Regions from separate parts of the Homo sapiens genome. Here region 1 is linked to region 2. Evidence: fine-mapped expression QTL. A gene starts in region 2. The other region holds a variant in brackets. All regions are shown on one strand. Distances are between the middles of the regions. Region 1 holds the start of LOC124901780. Region 2 holds the start of WDR86 (WD repeat domain 86).

Region 1 (5,364 bases), 26 kb after region 2:
GCCAGCCTGGAGCACCTGCTGGGGGACTCAGGGCAGGCCTGGTCCAGCCTGGACCCCACCCTCATGGCCCCCGTATCCATGCCCCTCCACACCTACAGCTTTCCAACCCCACACCTGTGCCACAGCTGGGGCCTCAGAGGCACCTCAGAGAGTCAGCTGGTCCTTTCCTACCCTGTGGTGGGCAAGAAATGCCCCAAGCCATGTCCTGGGCCACATGAGGGTTCTCACATGGACACCCCCAAAAGGAGGGGGCGGGGAACCACCCATCCTGCTGTCCCCTGTCCTGGCTGTGGCTACTGGGAGGAGGCAGACAGAGGAAAGGGCAGGGGCCTGTCCTGCCCACATCAGCACCGTGCCCTTCCCCAGGTGAGGGTAGGTGGAGGCAGAACGCCAGTGCATTTCCCTCCGAGAGCCCACCAGGACACGGGTCTGAGGGGATGGGTCATGCCTGGGCTGATGTGGGACCCAGAGGGAAGGAGTCTTGGCAGTGGGAGGTGGTGGAGGGACCCTGCCTTGCCCACTCCCCCGACCCCAGGAAAGGCCTCCTAGCAGTGTCCCCTCCGGATCGAGGGGACCTGGGGGCGTTACCTCCTTGACAAGGGCTTACATTTGTGTAAGAGTAAGAGTCTTAGGCGGCAAAGGCTGAGCTCCTGGGTCCCCCACCTGGGGTCCCGATGGCTGGCTCCTCTCAGGGACAGTGGGGATTGTGTGCCCCTCAGTCAGAGAAATGTTAGCCTCCACCTTCCCCACCTTCGTTCTCAACAAGCCCCTGAGCGTTGGGGGTGGGCCGGGGGGATTGTGTCTAGGGCCTCAGGACATCCTCCACGCAAAGGCATGACTTGGGCCTTACAAGACACAATTTAGCCAGCAAGTTTTCCAGGGCAAATTCTTGTTTTGGAATGCCACCCCTGGGCTCCAGGTGCCACCAATTTAGGGCAAAATGCAATTTCGTAAAACGGAATCCTGGAGCCAGCTAGAGTGACAGAAACAGCAGGAAGGGGGCCAACATCAGGCCACCGGGGAAAGGTGGGATGTACACAGTCCCTCCCTATCCCTGGGAACTGGTTCCAGGACCTCCCTTGGATATCAAAATCCGAGGATGCTCAAGTTCCTGATATAAAATGGCACTGTATTTGCATATAACCCATGTGTATCCTCCCATATATAGTAAGTCCTCACTTAACACCGTCAGTAAGTTCTTGGGAACCGTGGCTTTAAGCACATGATATATAACAAAGCCATTTCTCCCCTCATCAATTTTATAATGAATCCACATTGAACAAGATGACATATTTGAGGACCTGCCATACATTGTTTCACTTAAAGTCACAGTTTCCAAGAACCTATCCACAATGTTAAGTGAGGACTTACTGGACTCGAAATCATCTCCAGATTACTTATGATACCTAATCCAACATAAACGCTATGTAAATAGTTGTACAGTATCTTTCAGGGAATAATGTACATATTCAGCATAGACACAATTGTGGGGGGATATTTTCGCTGTGCGGTTGGAGCCCATGGACATGGGGTACCACCTGTGCCCAGCTCTGCCTCGGCCCAGTCTCTGTCTCCCTGCAGTCCCTCTGCCCCCTGCATCCCCTCCGAAGCTCCCTGGCCTTGAACCTCTGTAGTATAGACGGCAAATTGTTCCTCAATTGCTTCGATAGGCGCCAGAACCATGCACAGCCAGCTGGAACCTGTGTGAGGGGCTCTTGGCCTGAGGGGAGGGGACTGAGGCCTGGGAAAGCGGCTAGCTCTGGAACAGGGACAGACACAGGCTTGGCTGCAGTCTCAGCTGTGCCACTCCCACGGGGCGGCCGGGCAGTCAGCCTTCTGAGTCTCAGCTTGCCCTTTGTAGAACGGGGGCGATAATATCTACCTGACCTAGAGGTGTGGGCTGGACAATGAAAATACATGGCCAACTTGAAGGTGCTCAGAGGATAGTTGCAAAAGGGGAGTGTGCGGGAGGGCAGGAGGGGGCACACAGGCTGCCCTTGGTTGACCAGGAGGAAACCCAAGTGTGGGGCAGACAAACCCATCTGGGCCTGGGCAAAATTCCCCCAGCTACTTTCTGTCCAGGAGTGAGCCACCCCGAAGTCCATCTCCTCCCAGAGGCCAGGGTGGTGGGGGTTTGCAGAGAGGCCCGGTTCAGGGGTCAGCTCTGCGGGGTAGGCGCGGGGGCAGGGTGGGCTGGTCCACCCTTCTCAGAGCAAGTGAGCCCACTGTGGCTTTTCCAGCCCATAAGGCCCTGGAGGACCCCTTGGTAAGCAGGTGTCCCCCGGTTCAAGAAAACCAAAGGCGGCCCCTTGTATCAGATCAATCGCAGAGAACCGTGCAACTTTCAAGGTACTCTCCTACCTCTGCTCCTGGACTGAGGCCCTAGAGGGAAGGTCTCAGGGTGCCTCTGGGGCCCAGAGTCCCTCTCTGAGGCCCTTCTGGGCCACAGGGGAAGCTCCCCGCTGCTTGACTGGGGCAGGTGAGGCA[G/C]CTGAGGAAAGGAGAGGGCCTGTGGGGCCAGGGACACGCTGCCCACTGCTGGAGGTCTCATTCCCACCCCACCCACCACCCCTGTGTGGCGGGCAGCCTCCCACGCCTGGTGCTGAAGGGCCTAGCCGGGCCTCGGGGTGCGGCCACGTGGCCTGTACTCACGCTCCGTCCCCGTACACCTTGATGGTGTTCACACAGTTCTTGACCCAGCCCCTGCTCTGGAGGAAGGGGCTGTCCTCCAGGAACTCCAGGCACTGGCCCGTGAAGTTGCAACCCTCGAAGATTTCTAGGCGGAAATGTTCTCCGTGCTCCAAGACCAAGCAAAAAAGAAGGAAAGAAGGAGGTTGCTGTGAATTCCCCTCTCCCAGAAACAGAAGCCCCATGCAGGAAGGAATTAGGAGGTACCCAAGGCACTGGGCACCCCCACCCCACACACTTCAACCCCACACTTCTGTTTGTTCTTCCACATGAGATGTGGTTGGAAGAAAGGGTTCTATTACTCTGAAAATGTTCCAAGCCACTGAGCTGGTCCAAGCTCCTCTTTCTACAACTAGAAAATCTGAGGTCCAAAGAGGGCCAAACTGACCAGAGGCCAGCGGTCACACTCAGACCAGGGCTGGGGTCACGGGGCTCCCTCTGGGTGCTCAGCGTGGGGGACTCCGGCCCTGATCACAGCCACACACTCCGGGTTCTGACTTCCCCACCCCTGGGCCACAGCCCATGGGCAAGCCTTCAAATGATAACATTTTAAAACTGTAATAGAACCTTTTAGTAAAACATAAAGCCAAAAATCTAAAACAAATACCAGATCTCATGTGCTGAAACCCCTGCTGGCCTTGACATCATTGTCCCCTAGGCTCAGCACATCTCCCTATATGATTCCCGCATTTCCAAAAGACAGAGGAGGGCCAGCCCCTGCCTGGCTCAGAAGCCGGCAGGGCCTGGTCTGCGTCACAGCTGGCCCCAGGCTAGCTCTTAGGAGAACAGCAGTTCGCAAGATACCAAGGATGTTTTTCATATAAATAGCATTATGCAGGGTCCAGGGCCAACCATTTAAATTTCTTTTTTCCAAATGGACCACAGCCTGGAAGAAATACTAAGGAAGCATTCTTACAATTTGAGATGCCAAAGCCCAGCTGGTTTTGCAACTGATACAGAAAAGAGAGGGGGCACCACACAAAGGCCCCTTTACTGGGGTTCCTCAGATGTTCACCAGAACCACCCAGCCCAGGCGTCGGGGGAGGGTCCTCAGCAGACATAAGCGAGACGCTCTGTGATGAGAGATGCACGCCCCCAGGCTCAGGAGTCCGCCACTCCCCACCTGAAGCTCCAGAGCTCACAGCAGGTCAGTGAGTACCCATGACCTGGGGGAACGGCCTTGCTTAAATCCCACCCTAGGAGCAGCTGGACCGAAACAGTCTTTCGCCACCGGGGAGCCATGCCCCTCGTCTGCCCTCCCTGCACACACCTCTTGGGCGGCAGCTACCTGTGTAATTCCAAGGGACCTGCCCCCCAATTTTCCCCTGACAGGCGGGTGATTCTTCAGCTTCCTCCATCAGCCATTCCAAGACATGGAAGGCTCCAGAATGTGCCACAAGACCACCTGTACTAGTGGCCACACTAGGCCCAAATCAGCCTCCCATTGGCGGAGTGTCCCCTATCTGGCTGGAAATCTAAATTTGGATGATTTCAACAGCATTTTAAATGGAAAATGCAGCTAGATTTTTGGCTCCGAAACTTAAAGTGGTTTATTGATACCTGTATGAAAACTCAGGGCCACTCCCACTCAGTTCATAGCAACTTGGCCCCCCACCTACTCACCTCATGCCAGCAGGTGGCTCTGGGTATAGCTCCTTCAGTCTTACAGACTTTAAAGCCGGGAGGACCACGCTCCCCGATTCCTTGCCACTGTCTGCCAGGGCTGACCCTCGGTCCCTCCAGCAGGAAGACTCAGCCTTCGGTGGACGGGCCCACTCACCATTCCTACAGGCCGACAGGAGCCCATGTGGTCACTGTGGCTGTTCCAGCGGAAGAAGTCGGGGTAGTCGCCGTGCTCCAAGATGAACTGCTGGCCCCGGAAGTCGGGGTGATTGAAGCAGACCCAGGCTCCGCTCTCCACGTGGATGGAGTTCACTCGGTTCATAAAGCCCCGGTCCTGGAAGTTGTCACAGTCCCCGAAGACCTCCAGCTTCTGCCCTGTGAAGTGCTTGCCTTCATAGAGAGTGATCTAGAAAGGGCAGGTTACAGAGCTCAGGGTCAGGGGCTTCTCTCCGTCAGCGTTGGAGGCTGGCGTCTGGGTCCCAACACCCTGGATGGAACCCCTACTCCCAGGCCCCCAAAAGCCCAGACCTGCTGCACACAGTAGGTGCCCAACACTATTTGCCAATTGGGCAAAAGAACGAACAGCTGGCAGGCTGATGCCATACACAGCTACTGTTCCTCCCCACCCTTAGGAGCTCACAGTGGGGCAGACAAATTTCAGCAGCGATTTGGGGACAGGGGTTTCCCCTTTGTCTAGGTGCCCATTTCAAAATGGGCTGTTTTCAACTTCCACTGCATTTTTAACTCATTTTTTAATTATTAAAACATAAAGCCGATAATAACATTAAAGGAGGTGTTTTCAAAAGAAGAAATTTCACCCACAACCCTCTCATGGTAACCCAGCATATATTTTGCAGAAATTCGGGTTCCTGGGATTGGGCCTCCTTCACTGGAGAGGCTGAATGGGCCGAAGCCGCGTCAGGGCCTGGCTCGGGATTAATGTTCGCAAAAGAGGGCTTATAAGTGCCACCCTGTCTCTCTGTGTTTTGTAGGTCACTCCTTTGGGTAGCAGGCATGTATCAGATCTGGAGCTCCATCACCCTGCTGGGAGTTCAG
Region 2 (5,364 bases):
TCTGTCCCCGTCCTTGAAAATTCCTGAAAATACCAACCCATATAACAGCAAAAACAATCCTAGCAAAATGGGCCACAGTTCTTTCATTCCAGTGTCCTGCTTGAGCGGGGATAGCCCTGCCCTCAATTAGGGCAGAAGGTTGGGCACCCTCCCTGGGAAGTGAGTGTCAGTACCTCAAGGGGACAAGCAGCCGTGAGGGTCACCAAAGTGGGTGTGAAGGAAGGAGGCACAGGTGCCAGACACAGAGCTGGGCAGGAGGGTGGGCCCTGGAGGCTTGGTGAGGCTCCAGAGCTGCCGTGGGGGCAAAGCCAAGTGCCCACCAGGCTACCGGCAGCCTGGCAAAGCCTGGGGCCTCACTGGGGAGAAACCCCACCTAATTGTGGGCTAAGCTGGGCTCCCACAACCCGTCCCCAGCCCAGGGGCTCCCGGGGCCAGCTGTGCATAAGACCCACCCAAAAGCTTGTTAGAAATGCCAATTCTAGGCCGGGTGCAGTGGCTCACACTTGTAATCTCAGCACTTCGGGAGGCCAAGGCGGGTGGATCACCTGAGGTCGGGAGTTCAAGACCAGCCTGGCCAACATGATGAAGCCCCACGTCTAATAAAAATACAAAAAAATTAGCTGGGCGTGGTGGCGAGCACCTGTAATCCCAGCTATTCAGGAGGCCAAGGCAGGAGAATCGCTTGAACCCGGGAGGCGGAGGTTGCAGTGAGCCAAGATCGTGCCACTGCACTCCAGCCTGGGCAACAAGAGCGAAACTCCATCTCAAAAAACAACAACAAGAAGAAATGCCAGTTCTACAGCCCTATTCATGGAGGACTGCATCACTGGAGCCCAGGCCTGGGGATCTGCATTTCTGAAACACCACCCACCCCTCTACCCCCAAGACAGTCTTATGTTTGGGAGCAATACCAACTGGACTTAACATTTCTAAAAGACCTCATATTTTCCATTCCTGGTTGAATGCCTATAAGTGTGTGTGGCTGTTTGGGGGGGATGTGTGTTAGTTTGTGGCCACCTCTCCATTATCCACACCAACTCCCAAGTAACCGGTAATCCAAAAGTCATCCCTGTTGGGTTTGAAATATCTGCCCTAACTATGTAATATTTTTTTCTTTTCTTTTCTTTTTTTTTTTTTTTTAGACAGAGTCTGGCTCTGTCACCCAGGCTGGAGTGCAGTGGCACGATCTTGGCTCACTGCAACCTCTGCCTCCTGGGTTCAAGTGATTCTCCTGCCTCAGCCTCCCGAGTAGTTGGAATTACAGGCGCCCGCCACCACGCCCAGCTAATTTTTTGTATTTTTATTAGACACAGGGTTTCATCATGTTGGCCAGGCTGGTCTCAAACTCCTGACCTCTGGTGATCCACCCACCTTGGCCTCCCAAAGTGTTGGGATTACAAGTGTGAGCCACCGAGCCTGGTCAACTGTTCTTATTTAAAACCAGCAGTATCAGGATTAGCCAATATTGGGGCTAATATCCTACCTAAGTTGGAAGGCCTGGGCGAGGCCACAGAGAGTTCACTGATGATGGTGGAAAAGCCCGCGGTGATAAAGAACTACCCACAGCAGAAAGCCTCGCGGCTCATCCAGGGGACTACGTGTGCTACCTGGGCAGTAGGAGGGCCAGAGCTGAAAGGGACCTCACAGTGCATGGGACAGGCCCAGGGGAAGGTGCACCCGAGGCACACTGACCTCCTGAGTGAGTACAGGGCACAAATAGAAACCAACAGGCATGCAGGCAGGGTTTACAGCAATGAGAGGGCTCAGACTGCCATCTACCCCTCACTGGCTGTGCGACCTGGGCGAATTACTTAACTCCCAGCCTGTTTCCACGTCTGTATGTGGGGTAACATAGTGTGACGACGGCACACTTCTCCGCACCGCTGGCCCTTAACAAGCGTCTACTGTTGCTGTGAGAGTCGTCAACAGGAAATGCCAGCAGAAGAGCACAATTGGCCACAAAGAGGCCACAAGGCACCTAGAGACAAGGGAAGGTTTGCTTAGAAGGAGTATAGGTGCAACTTTTTGTTTGTTAACATTGTTGTCAAGGGAGATTTCCTGCCGCTGGTTGACAAATGATCTTCGCCTTTGTAGCGGACGCCCCTCGACCCACCCACCCGATCCCGGCCGCACCCTGCTCTGCACCCGCACCCCACCCCCAGACCTCACCCTGCCCTGCCGTGCGCTCAACAGCCAGATGCTGGGCCCAGACAAGCGCTCTTCCGCTAGTGTGCCGGGATGAGCGGGGGCTGGACTTCTAGAAAGGGGTCTGCGGGCGCAGGAGCTGGGGTCCGCGGTCTGGGGCCGGTGAGCTGCGGCGAAGAGGTCAGGGAGGGAGTGGGAGGGTCTACCTTGCAGGAGCGCGCAGCACTGGCCGTCCGCGGTGCTCCAGAGCCGGGCCGTGCCGTCCTCGCTGCCCGTCAGCAGGCGCTGCCCGTCGGGGCTCAGGCTCAGCCAGTTGATGCCCCCGCGGTGGTCGGCGCAGACCCTCAGGGCCGACCCGCCGCCCCCCATCCCGCTGGCAGGGCGGGGAACAAGAAGGAGCTGCGCCCCGCTAGGGAGGGGCGCCCCGGGGTCCGCGCGGCGGCTCCGTACGACTGCGGCCCGCGGCCATCGCGGGGAACGGGGAGCCCGACTCCTGCGGAGGCACGCGGCGAGGGGAGGGTGAAGGACCCTAGCTCCCCGCTGCCTCCAGCCTCTGGGCCCGCGAACCCAGGGCGCTGCGGGGGGCGGCCCACTCGGGACCTCCGCCCTGGGTAGAGTCCTGGGCGCGCGGGCAGAGAGAACCCCCTTCCCAGCACCGCTCGGAGGATCCACACCCCACCGGGCGAACAAGGCAGCTGCGTCTCTGGTGCACAAGGAGCCCCCCGCCTCCTCTCGCGCCCACGGGGCTGGGGCGGGGAGAGGAACACGGGAAGCCGAGCGCCCCGCGCCCTCCCCGGCCGAGCGCGGAACAATACGGTCCAGCCTGGCTCCTCCTCAGAGACCACCCCTCACCCGATCCCCTCCCACTTCTCGGGCTGCGCCCCAGCCCCCACCCCGCGCGCCTGCAGCCTCCCCCCTTCGTCGCTGTGCGGGTCCGGGGGACGGCTCCACGTGCGACCCTCCTAGCTGCCCGGGCTGCGCCTCTGGGCTCTGGCCTCTGCCACCTCCGCCGCCGCCGCCTGGGTCCCCTGAGCCAAGGGCCGGGACGAGGGAGGGGGAGGCGGACAAAGGGTCGGGGTCGGGGAGAATCGCGCGCCGGGAACTCATTTGGGGCGCAGCTCCACCGACCCCTCGGCTACTCGCCTCCACCAGGCAAGCCAGGTCCTCCCATGCTCTGAGCCCTAAGGACTCTGCCCGAGGGGCTCTCGGGGACTTGGGGGCGGTCCCCCAATGGAGGGTGCGACAGGGAAAGCCCCGAGTCCGCCCTCCCTGGGAAATCACGCGCACACCCAGGATTCTACTTTGGTCTGGCCGGAGTGGGGATGAGGTGCGAGCCGCTGCGGGGTCGGTGGAGCCGGGATGTCAAGTTCACCTTCCAGCCGCCGCGGGCTCCCTCGGCCTGGGGCGCCTCTAATGGACCCCGGGGTCGGCCTGAGCCCTCCCGGAGCGCCCGGCGGCTGGTTTCCATTAGGGCAGTTCCGGCGCCGACTTCGCTGGGGACGGGGAAGGTGACCCCCCTACTCGGATCCCCCAGGTCCTAAAGGTAGCAGGATTTCCAGAACGCTCCAGGGCTCTCTCAGGAGCCTAGGGAGAAGGGCAAGGAAGGGGCGTCTTTGGCGAGCTAGCCCGCAATGGGACGACCAGTACTGCACGCTCTGCTCTATCCAGACTCCAAAAGAAAACCCCATCGTGGGGTGTCCCAGGCCGTTGGGTCGTTTATACCCAGAGTGGCCTAACCAGAGAAATCCGTTCTTTTCCCTCAAAACTTGTAAAGCAGCTGGCGCCTCAGCTTAAGGAGCGTGGCCCTTCCTTAGCAGGTGGTGGAGAGAGGGGCAGTGGAGGAGCGTTAGGACGAGATTTGGGGTCATCCAGCCGGAGAGAGGGAGGCCGAAAGGAGAGACGTTTTCAGGAGGTGGAGGCTTCAGCATTTGGATGCCTGCGAGGCGGGAGAGGCCGGGGAGCCTGTCTTGTGCTGAGAGGCTGGGTAGACTGTTTTGTCCCCTACAGGCTGATCACCAGTTCCTCTTAGGAACCGGTGAACCTCAGGGGGCCCATTGCACATCCAGGTGTGAAACTGCGGTGTGGCCTCCAGGTGAGGACAGACTCGGTATAGTGGGGATCTTGGGCAGGCCCTGCGGCTGCAGCCCTTGGGGAAGGTGAATGTGAGGACCATGGAGGCTGGGAGGGTTTATCCGGAGAAGTGCCAGAGGAAACCCAAACTTTCTGGGCAGAGGGGCCAAGGAGAACCAGGCATCGACTCTTTTGGAAACTAAGAGGGGAGGGGTTTGAAAGCAGTTTGGGAGCTGGGGACAGATCGTAGGTTGGGCGAGCTTGCCTGGTCGTGGGCCAGAGGAAAGAACCACCAGGAGAAAAGCTTAACTTTCAAGGAGGTCACCCAGGATTCCTGAGCAAGGTGGCACCCATGCACTCTGGTTCCTCTCCTCTGCAGCCAACACAAGCCATCAGCCCCATGCTCAGCTCCCAGCAGGCAGAGCGTTCAGAAGCGCCAGCGCCATCATCTTGGGAGCCTGCAGTCCACACACCGCTGACCTTACCTACTTCCTCTTTCCAGGTTGATAGATTTTTTGTTCTTGGCTTCTCCACCTCCCCCACCCCTCCTTCTCCGGTTTGGCACAAAGTGGCCCCCTGGTGGGGATGAGCCAGCCATCTCTGGGGGTTGAGTCTGGACTGTAGAGCTGTGGGTGCAGATGTCCTCAGCCAGCCTGTCTTCCCTTTTCTCTTGCAGGTCGTAGATTACAGACTCTCCTCTGGGAAATTGCCCCCAGATCTAACAGGAGTACAAGAAGCTGGGTAGATTGGAAAACAGCACCGAATTCCCCTGGAACTGAGGTCTCCCCTAATTCCCCTGAAACTGGGGTCTCCCCCAACCTCCACCTTAAGATAGCAAAGCTATAGAGACCCAGGAGTCAGGCTGGGTCCCCAGCAGAACCTGGGCTCCCTTCCCCTTTCACACCTTTAACTCTTCTGGAGCCTCCAAGAGGGCCTGGAGTCCCGTGGTGCCCAGGCCCTCCTGGACCTAATCACTTTATAAATGGAAGGCACCTTGGGAAGGGAACCTGGTAGGGTGTAGGAGGAAATGGTTAAGCTTTAAGAAGCAAGAAATGGGCAGTGTTTAACAAGTGAAGGGTTGGGGGGCGGGTGCATTTTGTGCCAGGGAGTGCTCATTCCCCGTGCCACAGGGACTGCCACAATTTACCC

What was found. PIP is the estimated chance that this variant, and not a neighbour inherited with it, causes the effect. A credible set is the group of variants that fine-mapping cannot tell apart.
Region 1: its variant is the best candidate, but not a certain one, in a credible set for the expression of WDR86 in whole blood (INTERVAL, PIP 0.77).

The regions. Positions count from the first base shown.
Region 1 is chr7:151,433,531-151,438,894 of GRCh38, forward strand. It overlaps CRYGN (crystallin gamma N), which reads right to left. Exons shown (of 4, transcript NM_144727.3): 2 at 4,466-4,714; 3 at 2,650-2,795. LOC124901780 reads right to left here and starts at 2,631. Exons shown (of 1, transcript XM_047421163.1): 1 at 1-2,631. MIR3907 (microRNA 3907) reads right to left here and starts at 109; the gene lies at 1-109. RefSeq lists an enhancer at 4,179-5,028. The variant G/C (reference allele first, on the strand shown) is at 2,488.
Region 2 is chr7:151,407,076-151,412,439 of GRCh38, forward strand. WDR86 (WD repeat domain 86) reads right to left here and starts at 2,963. Exons shown (of 6, transcript NM_198285.3): 1 at 2,352-2,963. The coding sequence starts at 2,514. WDR86-AS1 (WDR86 antisense RNA 1) reads left to right here and starts at 2,086. Exons shown (of 6, transcript NR_109857.1): 1 at 2,086-2,307; 2 at 4,153-4,237; 3 at 4,595-4,717; 4 at 4,892-4,995. RefSeq lists an enhancer at 3,529-4,161.